2 linked regions of the Homo sapiens genome follow. Changing the gene in region 2 together with the main gene of any one other region gives a genetic interaction. Each region holds a gene or a part of one and is shown on either strand. Other genes may lie near its edges. The genes, in order: MST1R and PFKFB4.

The links.
Region 1: changes in PFKFB4 (region 2) and MST1R together harm fitness less than expected from each alone (positive genetic interaction), as found in Homo sapiens cells (one large-scale study listed by BioGRID).

What each region holds. Positions count from the first base shown.
Region 1 is NC_000003.12:49,900,798-49,905,310, forward strand, and holds the start of MST1R (macrophage-stimulating protein receptor isoform 1 preproprotein), read right to left. Parts: upstream 3,077-4,513; 5' UTR 2,813-3,076; coding exon 1,583-2,812; intron 1-1,582. UniProt on the Homo sapiens protein: Receptor tyrosine kinase that transduces signals from the extracellular matrix into the cytoplasm by binding to MST1 ligand. Regulates many physiological processes including cell survival, migration and differentiation.
Region 2 is NC_000003.12:48,532,620-48,536,426, forward strand, and holds part of PFKFB4 (6-phosphofructo-2-kinase/fructose-2,6-bisphosphatase 4), read right to left. Parts: coding exon 3,637-3,807; intron 3,040-3,636; coding exon 2,893-3,039; intron 1-2,892. UniProt on the Homo sapiens protein: Synthesis and degradation of fructose 2,6-bisphosphate.

The sequences.
Region 1 (4,513 bases), 1.4 Mb from region 2:
CCCAGGCTTAGGTAGGGGCCCCCAGCTCCTGAAAACACGTAAGTGTCCAATGTCCCATGGAGGACAGGCACCAGCTCTGAGTCCCTCAGGCCTCCTGAGGCCAACCACTATGTGGGTGCTGCCCTAGTGGCTGCATGCCCAGAGTTGCTGGGCAAACACTGCACGGGGTGATTCACACACCTCCTGGGGGCCTGGCCAGCCTGTGAGCAGGGACCAAGATTAGTCTTCCTGGAGCCTGGCACTGCCCAGCCGTGCTGGGTGTCTTCTGACCCACTGACCACTAGGCAAGCTGGGGAGAGGTTCTGACTCCCCATTGGGAAGGAGAAGGGGCCAGGCAGGCCTGCCCAGGCCCAGACAAGGAGTCCCCAACCCTAGGGCCTCTCAACCCAGATGTACTCAGCAGAGGGAGGGAGGCTAAAGACCCCCAACCTCACATTGGGTGTAAGTTCTCCCATCTCCGAGGCATCAATAGGAGCGGAAAGGAGTCTTTCGAGAATGTCACAGCAGGCCCAGGGCCACAGGATGATAGCTAGAGAATCTAAGAACAGTAGCTGTGGGTCCCATTCCTTGGTCCAATCTTACTGCTGTTGCCTACACGATGGCTGGAGAGAACCTAGATAGAGTCTGTGGAAGGAGCCCCCAGTTCAGCACAGGCTTTGAGACTTCCTGCCTGGGGTAGGGCTCCAAATACAGTTAAAAAAAAAAGTCTGGGATGGACCAATTCCAACCAGCCCTTCCTAGGCCTTTACTTATCCCCAGATGTTTATAGTTGCTTGCACAAGACTAGAGTGAGGCTCCCAGAACCTTCTAGAACCAAGCTGCCATTCCATGAGTTCTGGGTACTCCCCCAATCACCCCCAATCATGGCAAAAACGTTAGTGAAGCCCAGGACATGCAGGCTCCCTAACAAGCTCCCAACTTCCAAGGCCCAGGAGGCTCCCTGGAACGTGGTGGCTGGCAGAAGGATGGGGGTGGGTGGGGGGAGGGGGTGTGGAGGAAGGGGAGATTCTCTGACAACTCCCGTCCCACCCCCTTTGGAAAGCAGAGCAAAACAAGGGAAAGTGAAACTGTTGGCAAGCAGCTGTGAGTCTGTGAATCTGTGAGCATCTCCCTGTGTATTTGTGCGTGGTGGTGGTGGTGGTGGCGGGGGTGGGGGAGGGGAGGGGGGAGTGCTATTTTTCTGCGTGTGTCCCTGAGGATATGGGTGGTGGACAAGTAGGAGGGAATGCCCATCATTCTACCCAGCATTCAGGAGCTATGCTAACAGAGACACGGTTATGTAACCCTATCCTCACATAGCCAGGGAAACTACCTAAAAAACCAGAGGCCATGATGGGCAGGTAGGGGAAAGAGCAAGATGAGGCAGCCACAAGGGCCAGCCTGGGAGCTAAGCCTCCAGTGTAGCCTTTGTCTGGCTGGTTTCTCACACCACCCCAGCACTTAGGAACTGGGTGAGAGAGAATGCTTCTTTCCGCCTGCCCCCCCACCGCGCCCCCAGATCCCCTCAGTGATGGAAGGGAAGCAGCCTGTGTTCAGCCATGTGCATGCAGCTCACAAGTAAGGGCCCCTTCTTTCAGCTTACCGGGTTGGGGCAAAAACTGGGCGACTGGAAGAAGTCGAGGCCTCGCCGGAGGCCTGGATGGACTGGGGATTCACAACAGCGCTCCACACCCTCATCAATTAGTGTGTCCAGCAGGTCAATGGGGAAGGCACAGACGACAGAGTTGGGGCCCACGCCAGGACCACCATCCTTGCCAGTCACAAAGACCCCAAATAGTACTTCCTGGCCCTCGGCGATGCTCAGCTCAGTGGCAAGTTGGGCACCCACTGGAGCGGAGTGGGCCACCCGCAGCACAGGGTAGGGCTGTCCGCCTTCTGGGGCCCCCCGGCGCCTGCGTTTTGGAGCAAATCTGCAGTCGAGGACCAGCTCCCGATAGTCACCCAACTCTGGCTCAGTGGCGCTAAGCCGTGCCAGGCGTGTGTGCAGGGCACTAGGATCATCTGTCACGCTGGCCGGCTGTACAGTCAGGAAGTATACGAAGGCTCCCGTGTGGAAGCTGTGCACGTATTCAATACTGTAGGAGACAAGATGCTTGGGCAGCACTGACAACGCCACAAAGCCCGGTGCGAATCCCGAGGCGTCAGCCTTGAGACGCCTGATAGACACTGAGCGTGGGCTGAAGCTGGCAGCCACGGCTGCGTCCAGTGAGGATGCCACGTAGAAATAGGAGGCCTGGCCTTGCTCAACCACAGTTACACGGGTGCCCAATGGGCTGGCCACACAGTCGGGGCAGTCATCGGGCCGGTTATGGTGGGCTGAGAAGAGGCAGGCTGGCGCTGCCAGATGCACGGCTGTCCCTTGGGGCTCTAGGTCATGCAGGAAGCAGCGGCCCTGCAGGCTGGAGCCACAACTGACCAGCGCAGGCAGCGCGGGATCCAGCACCAGCACCTTTGTGTCTGTGTCACCGGGAGGGCCGTGGGGTCCTGGGCCACAGGCTGCACACGTCTGGCAGCCAGGGTCTCCAGCAGGGCCCGTGGCCAGGCTCTGGACAGACTTCAGGTCAGGCCCAAGCACATGCAGGCGATTGCGTATGGCTACAAACACAGCACTCTCATTTCTGTCGCCCTCGTAGGTCACCATGGCCTGTACCAGGCCTCCGGCGGAGAAGCTGGGCACCACGTACTTCACGTCAAAGTCGCGAGAGGCCGCGTAGGGGGTGCGCGGGCACTGCCAGTCCTCGCCCGCCGCGGGCTTGGCAGGCAACAGCAGCAGCAACAGGAAGGACTGAGGCAGCGGCGGGAGGAGCTCCATCGAGGCGAGCTGGGACCCTAGAGGATCCCTACCGGCCTGGGCCTGGACCTGGGCGTGGGCCTGGCTGGGGGCCCGACTCGAGGTCTGGACTGGGCCAAATTTAAGCAGCGGTCCCGACAGCCCCAAGATAGCGGACCCCCGCCCCAGGTTCCTGTGAAACCCAAATCCCTTCCCGGCCCTCGGGTCTGAGCACCTGACGCCTGCGGACGCACGACAGCAACGCCCCAGCCGCCTCACCTGCCGCCCCAGCCGCCGCTGTACACTGGCGCTTAGCGCTCAGCCGACCCGAGGGCGCCGGGCTGGGCGGGCGGAGTCGGGCCGTGGGGGCGGGGCCGCGAGGAAGGCTTGGCCTAGCCCAGGCCCTCCGCCCATCCGACTCTTCCGGCCCTTGGAGGCCTGGCTCCTGTACCTTCACCTGGCGTCTTGGCGCCTTTTTCTCAGCGGCCTGTGGGTGGATGTGCATGGTGTGGCCTGGAGAGAGGTGAGCCAGTCTGAGCCGTCCCATCCCATCCCCCCACTACCGACTGGTTCGCAGCGAGAAGGGGGGCAGGACACTGGGCTCTTTGCTTGCGGTGGAACTAGTTTGCACTTAGTAGCAACACCCTCAGTGGCTGGTGCCCAGAGGTGGCCTGGGGGCCCACCATGTGGAGAACAGAGACCAGGATTGTGTGGAAGACCAGAGGGGAGATGTGGGGCACTTACAAGAGATGTTATGGGGCGCCACCCTTTGTGGGAAAGGACTGTCCTTTTTTTTTTTTGAGAAGGAGTCTTGCTCTGTGGCCCAAGCTGGATTGCAGTGGCGCGATCTCGGCTCACTGCAAACTCCGCCTCCCAGGTTCAAGCGATTCTCCAGCCTCAACCTCCTCCTGTCTCAACCTCCTGAATAGCTGGGATTACAGGCGCGCACCACCACACCCGGCTAATTTTGTATTTTTAGTAGAGACAGGATTCACAGTGTTGGCCAGGCTGGTCTCAAACTCCTGACCTCAGGTGATCCGCCCGCCTCAGCCTCCCAAACTGTTGGGATTACAGGCGTAAGCCACCGCGCCCGGCCGGGACCATTCTTCCATGTGCTTCTCCTGAGCTATCAGCGACAAGATGGTGTCAGAGGAAGGTGTGTTATGCCCTGCTCTCCCAGGGCCATAAGGGTCTTAGGATGGGATCTGGCCTTGCTGACTGGACCTCAGAGTCAGAGAGGCACGTAAGTGGAGGCCCATACCTCCTCTGCAGCCTCAGTATATGGAAGCTGTATAATGGGGTCCACAGTATGGGCCTTGGGGACTCCCCCTTCCTTCCTGGCTCTACCCAGTGCCCCCCTGATATGGAGGAATCATGGGCTTTGGCTCTCAGGACACTTCCAACATGCTCTGTAGGCCTTGCTGGATCTTATTCTCTTCAATGAGAATGTAGTTCTGGGCTGGGCACCGTGGCTCATGCCTGTAATCCTAGCACTCCTTTGAGGGGCCAAGGCAGGAGGATTGCTTGAGGTTAGGAGTTCAAGACCAGCCTGGGCAACATAACAAAACTCAACAAAACAAAAAAACTGCTAAAAATGTTTTTAAAATAAAATATGTGACCGGGCGTGGTGGCTCACGCCTGTAATCCCAGCACTTTGGGAGGCCGAGGCGGGTGGATCGCTTGAGGTCAGGAGTTCAAGACCAACATGGTGAACAGACAGATCTGGCCAACATGGTGAAACTA
Region 2 (3,807 bases):
GTGGTAGAATCGCTTGAGGCTAGGAGTTTGAGACCAACCTGGGCAATATAGTGAGCCTCCCTTCTCTACAAAAAATAAAAAAATTATCTAGGCATGGTGGTGTGCACTTGTTAGTCCCAGCTACTAGGGAGGCAAGAGAATCGTTGAGTCTAGGAGTTTGAGGCTGCAGTGATTTCCACATTGCACTGTAGCCTGGGTGACAGAGTGAGATGCTGTCTTAAAAAATAAACAGGAAGGAAACTCTTGCACAAGCTACAACATGGATGAACCTTGAGGATATTATGCTAACTAAAGTAACCAGTTACAAAAAGACAAATACTATATGATTTCACTTATATGAGGTATATAAAGTAGTCAAAGTCATAAAGACAGAAAGTGGTTGCCAGGGGCTGGGAGTAGCAAATAGAGTTATTGTTTTTCTTTTTAAAATTTTTTTAGAGATGGGGTCTCACTATGTTGTCCAGGCTGGAGTGCAAGGGCCAATCGTGAATGAAATCATAGCACACCACAGCCTCAAACTCATGGGCTCAAGCAATCCTCCCACCTCAGCCTCCCAAGTACCTGGGACTATAGGTGTGAGCCAGCACATCTGGCTTGAGTTATTGTTCAGTGGGTACAGAGTTTCTGTTTTACAAGATTAAAAGAGTTCTGGAGATGCATGGTGGTGAGAGTTGCATAACAATGTAAATGTACTTCATACTCCTGAAACGTACACTTCAAAACAGCTATGATGGTAAATTTTATGTTATGCATATTTTACCACAGTAAAAAAAAATGGAAAAACAAAAGCAGGGGTGGTAATATTCAAATTAGTCAAAGTATATATCCACAGAAAAAGCTTTTCATATTGAAATGGGAACCACCCATAATAAAGACCAAGCCATGATGGAGCAACTGGTACCAGATTTGCTCTGGCCCCAACAAAAACAACTATTATTAAAAAAGGACAAATTGGCAGGGCGCTGTGGCTGACACCTGTAATCCTAGAACTTTGGGAGGTTGAGGTGGGTGGATTGCCTGAGGTCAGGAATTCAAGACCAGCCTGGCCAACGTGGTGAAACCCTGTCTCTACTAAAAATACAAAAATTAGTTGGTGTGGTGGCGGGTGCCTATAATCCCAGCTACTCTGGAGGCTGAGGCACAAGAATCGCTTGAACCCGGGAGACGAAGGTGGCAGTGAGCCGAGATCGTGCCATTGCACTCCAGCCTGGACAACAGGAGCAAACCTCCGTCTCAAAAAAATAAATAAATAAAGGGACAAATCAAACAACTGTTTTTAGACACGAGACTAGGCAGGACTGTGATCCTTGAGAGAAGGGAAGCAAGCTGAGGGGAGGAGGCAGCAGCTTACTGCCCAGAGGCACTTCCTGGACTGCAGAGCCAAGCATAATGAAGAAATAATGGAAGATTCAAAAAAGGAACAAAATGAAATTCCTGGAGCTTCAAAACACCACATCTGATATGAAAAGTTCACTGGATGGGTTTAATAAAAATGCAGAAGTAAAGATAAGTGAATTTGAAGACATAGCAGTAGAAACTATCTAAATTAAAGCTCGGAAGGAAAAAAAGACAGAGAAGAAATGAACAGAAGAAATTAAAAAACCAGAAGTTCAGTGACCTGTGGGATGATACCAAACAGTCTAACACACACAGAGTGGGAGTCCAGGATGGGAGAAGGGGTGGCAGAAAATACCTTTGAAGAAATGATGGCCAACAATTCTTCACATTTTATATTTAGAAACCCAGAAATCCGAGAATCTCAATAAACCCCAAGGATGATAAACATAAAGAAAACCATACTGAGATACATCATAATCAAATTGCTAAAAATCAGCAATAAAGAGAAAATATTCCAGCCTAGGCAACATCATGAGACTCCGTCTCTACAAAAATTAGAAAAGATTAGCCTGGCATGGTGGCAAGTGCCTGTAGTCCCAGCTAGTCAGGAGGTTGAGATGGGAGGATGGCTTGAGCCCAGGAAGTTGAGGCTACAGTGAGCTATGATTGCACCACAGCACTCCAGCTTGGGTGACAGAGTAAGATCTTGTCTTGAAAAAAAAAAAAAAAAGAAGAAAAGAAAATATTAAAGGCAGTCAGAGAAAAAGGAGGTAACATTATATCCAGAAGAGCAAAGATGAGAATGACAACAGACTTCTCTTAGAAACAATGCAACCCAGAAGTCAGCAGAAGAGCATTTTTTTTTTTTTGAGACAGAACATCACTCTGTTGCCCAGGCTGGAGTGCAGTGGCACAATCTCAGCCCACTGCAACCTCTGTCTCCTGGGTTCAAGCAATTCTCCTGCCTCAGCCTCCCGAGTACGTGGGATTACAGGTACCCACCACCATGCCTGGCTAATTTTTGTATTTTCAGTAGAGATGGGGTTTCACCATGTTGGCCAGGCTGGACTCAAACTCCTGACTTGAGGTGATCCGCCCGCCTCAGCCTCCCAAAGTGCTGGGATTACAAGGGTGAGCCACCGCACCTGGCGAGAACAGCATCTTTAAAGAGACAAAGGCCGTGCTGGTTCACCTCATTTGTGTCTCCAGATCCCTGGGAGGTTGGCTATGGCTGACTGCAGCTACCAAGCTCCCGTGGCCGCTGATTTCTTGTTGAGCTAGACCATGAGGAACCCTAGCAGGAGGCCACAGGGAGGGAGGAGAGTGAGGTTGAGGTGTCAACTCCCAGGCTCACTCCTGAGAATGGTCTAGGGCTCACCCAAGGTCCCATCCTGTTAGGCTGCCTTTTCCTCTCTGCTCCCAGCCCCTAGGTTCCTGTATCCTTTCTCTCTCCTCTCCTTTGCCCAAGGGGAGCAATGGTCACTGTTGTTACAATATGATGCAGCAGCCCTGCGGTATCTGGGAGGTAGACAGGGAGGGAGGGACGGTAACTACCGCATCGATCTCGTTGAGGACCTTCCACTGTTCATAGGGCACACCCAGTGCCTCAGCCGTCTGGATTGTCCTCTTCATCTGGCTTGTCCAGACCTTCAGATCCTTGATATTTTGGTCACTGATGAACTGGGCTAGACTCTTGGCAAACTGAAATACATCATAAGCAAACTCAGACCCACAGGTCTTGGGCTGCCCTTAAAGCATCCCATAGCCGCAGGGTCCATGAGATCACCCTCGCCTTGAACACTCACTACAGGTTTGGTAAAAAGCATGAACTAACTTGTCGATGACACACATGCTGACACACAAGAACACAAGTGCTGTTCCTGTGCACCCTCCCAGACCCTGAGCACAGCAGCACAGTTACAGCTGAGACTCATCAGGGCCACTGCCTCCCCACAACCAGGTGCCCTGTGCTACGTGACCACTGAGGTCTCCCCTGGACTGTGGCACAGCTATCTGCTACACTGTATGGACTCAGGTCGCTCTAAGGGTGGCATGCCTCTGACAAAAGGGGCTCAGTGAGTGACAGCTCACATGGAAACCAGAGATCCAGGCATTTGCCTGTTGCTTGATGACCTTCCCTACATGATGGGAAGATTCTAGGTTGAATGAAGGTCATTCACCTCGACTGCACATTAAAAGAATGGGAGCCTAGCCCCAGCGCACTCACACATGCATATACCCAGCCACGCAGGGTACAAATGCAGGCCCGTGTGCGCACGCAGGGACACATGCACTGACCTCCCTGCCCCGAGGGGACAGTCCTGGGTCCCCGCCAATCCGGCCCTTGAGGTTGAGCTCGCTCTCCCCGTGCCGGCAGAGGTAGATGGAGCGGGGGGTCACGTGGATGTTCATGAGGTAATATACGATGCGGCTCTGGATGTGGTCAGCCACACGGTTCACCACGTAGCT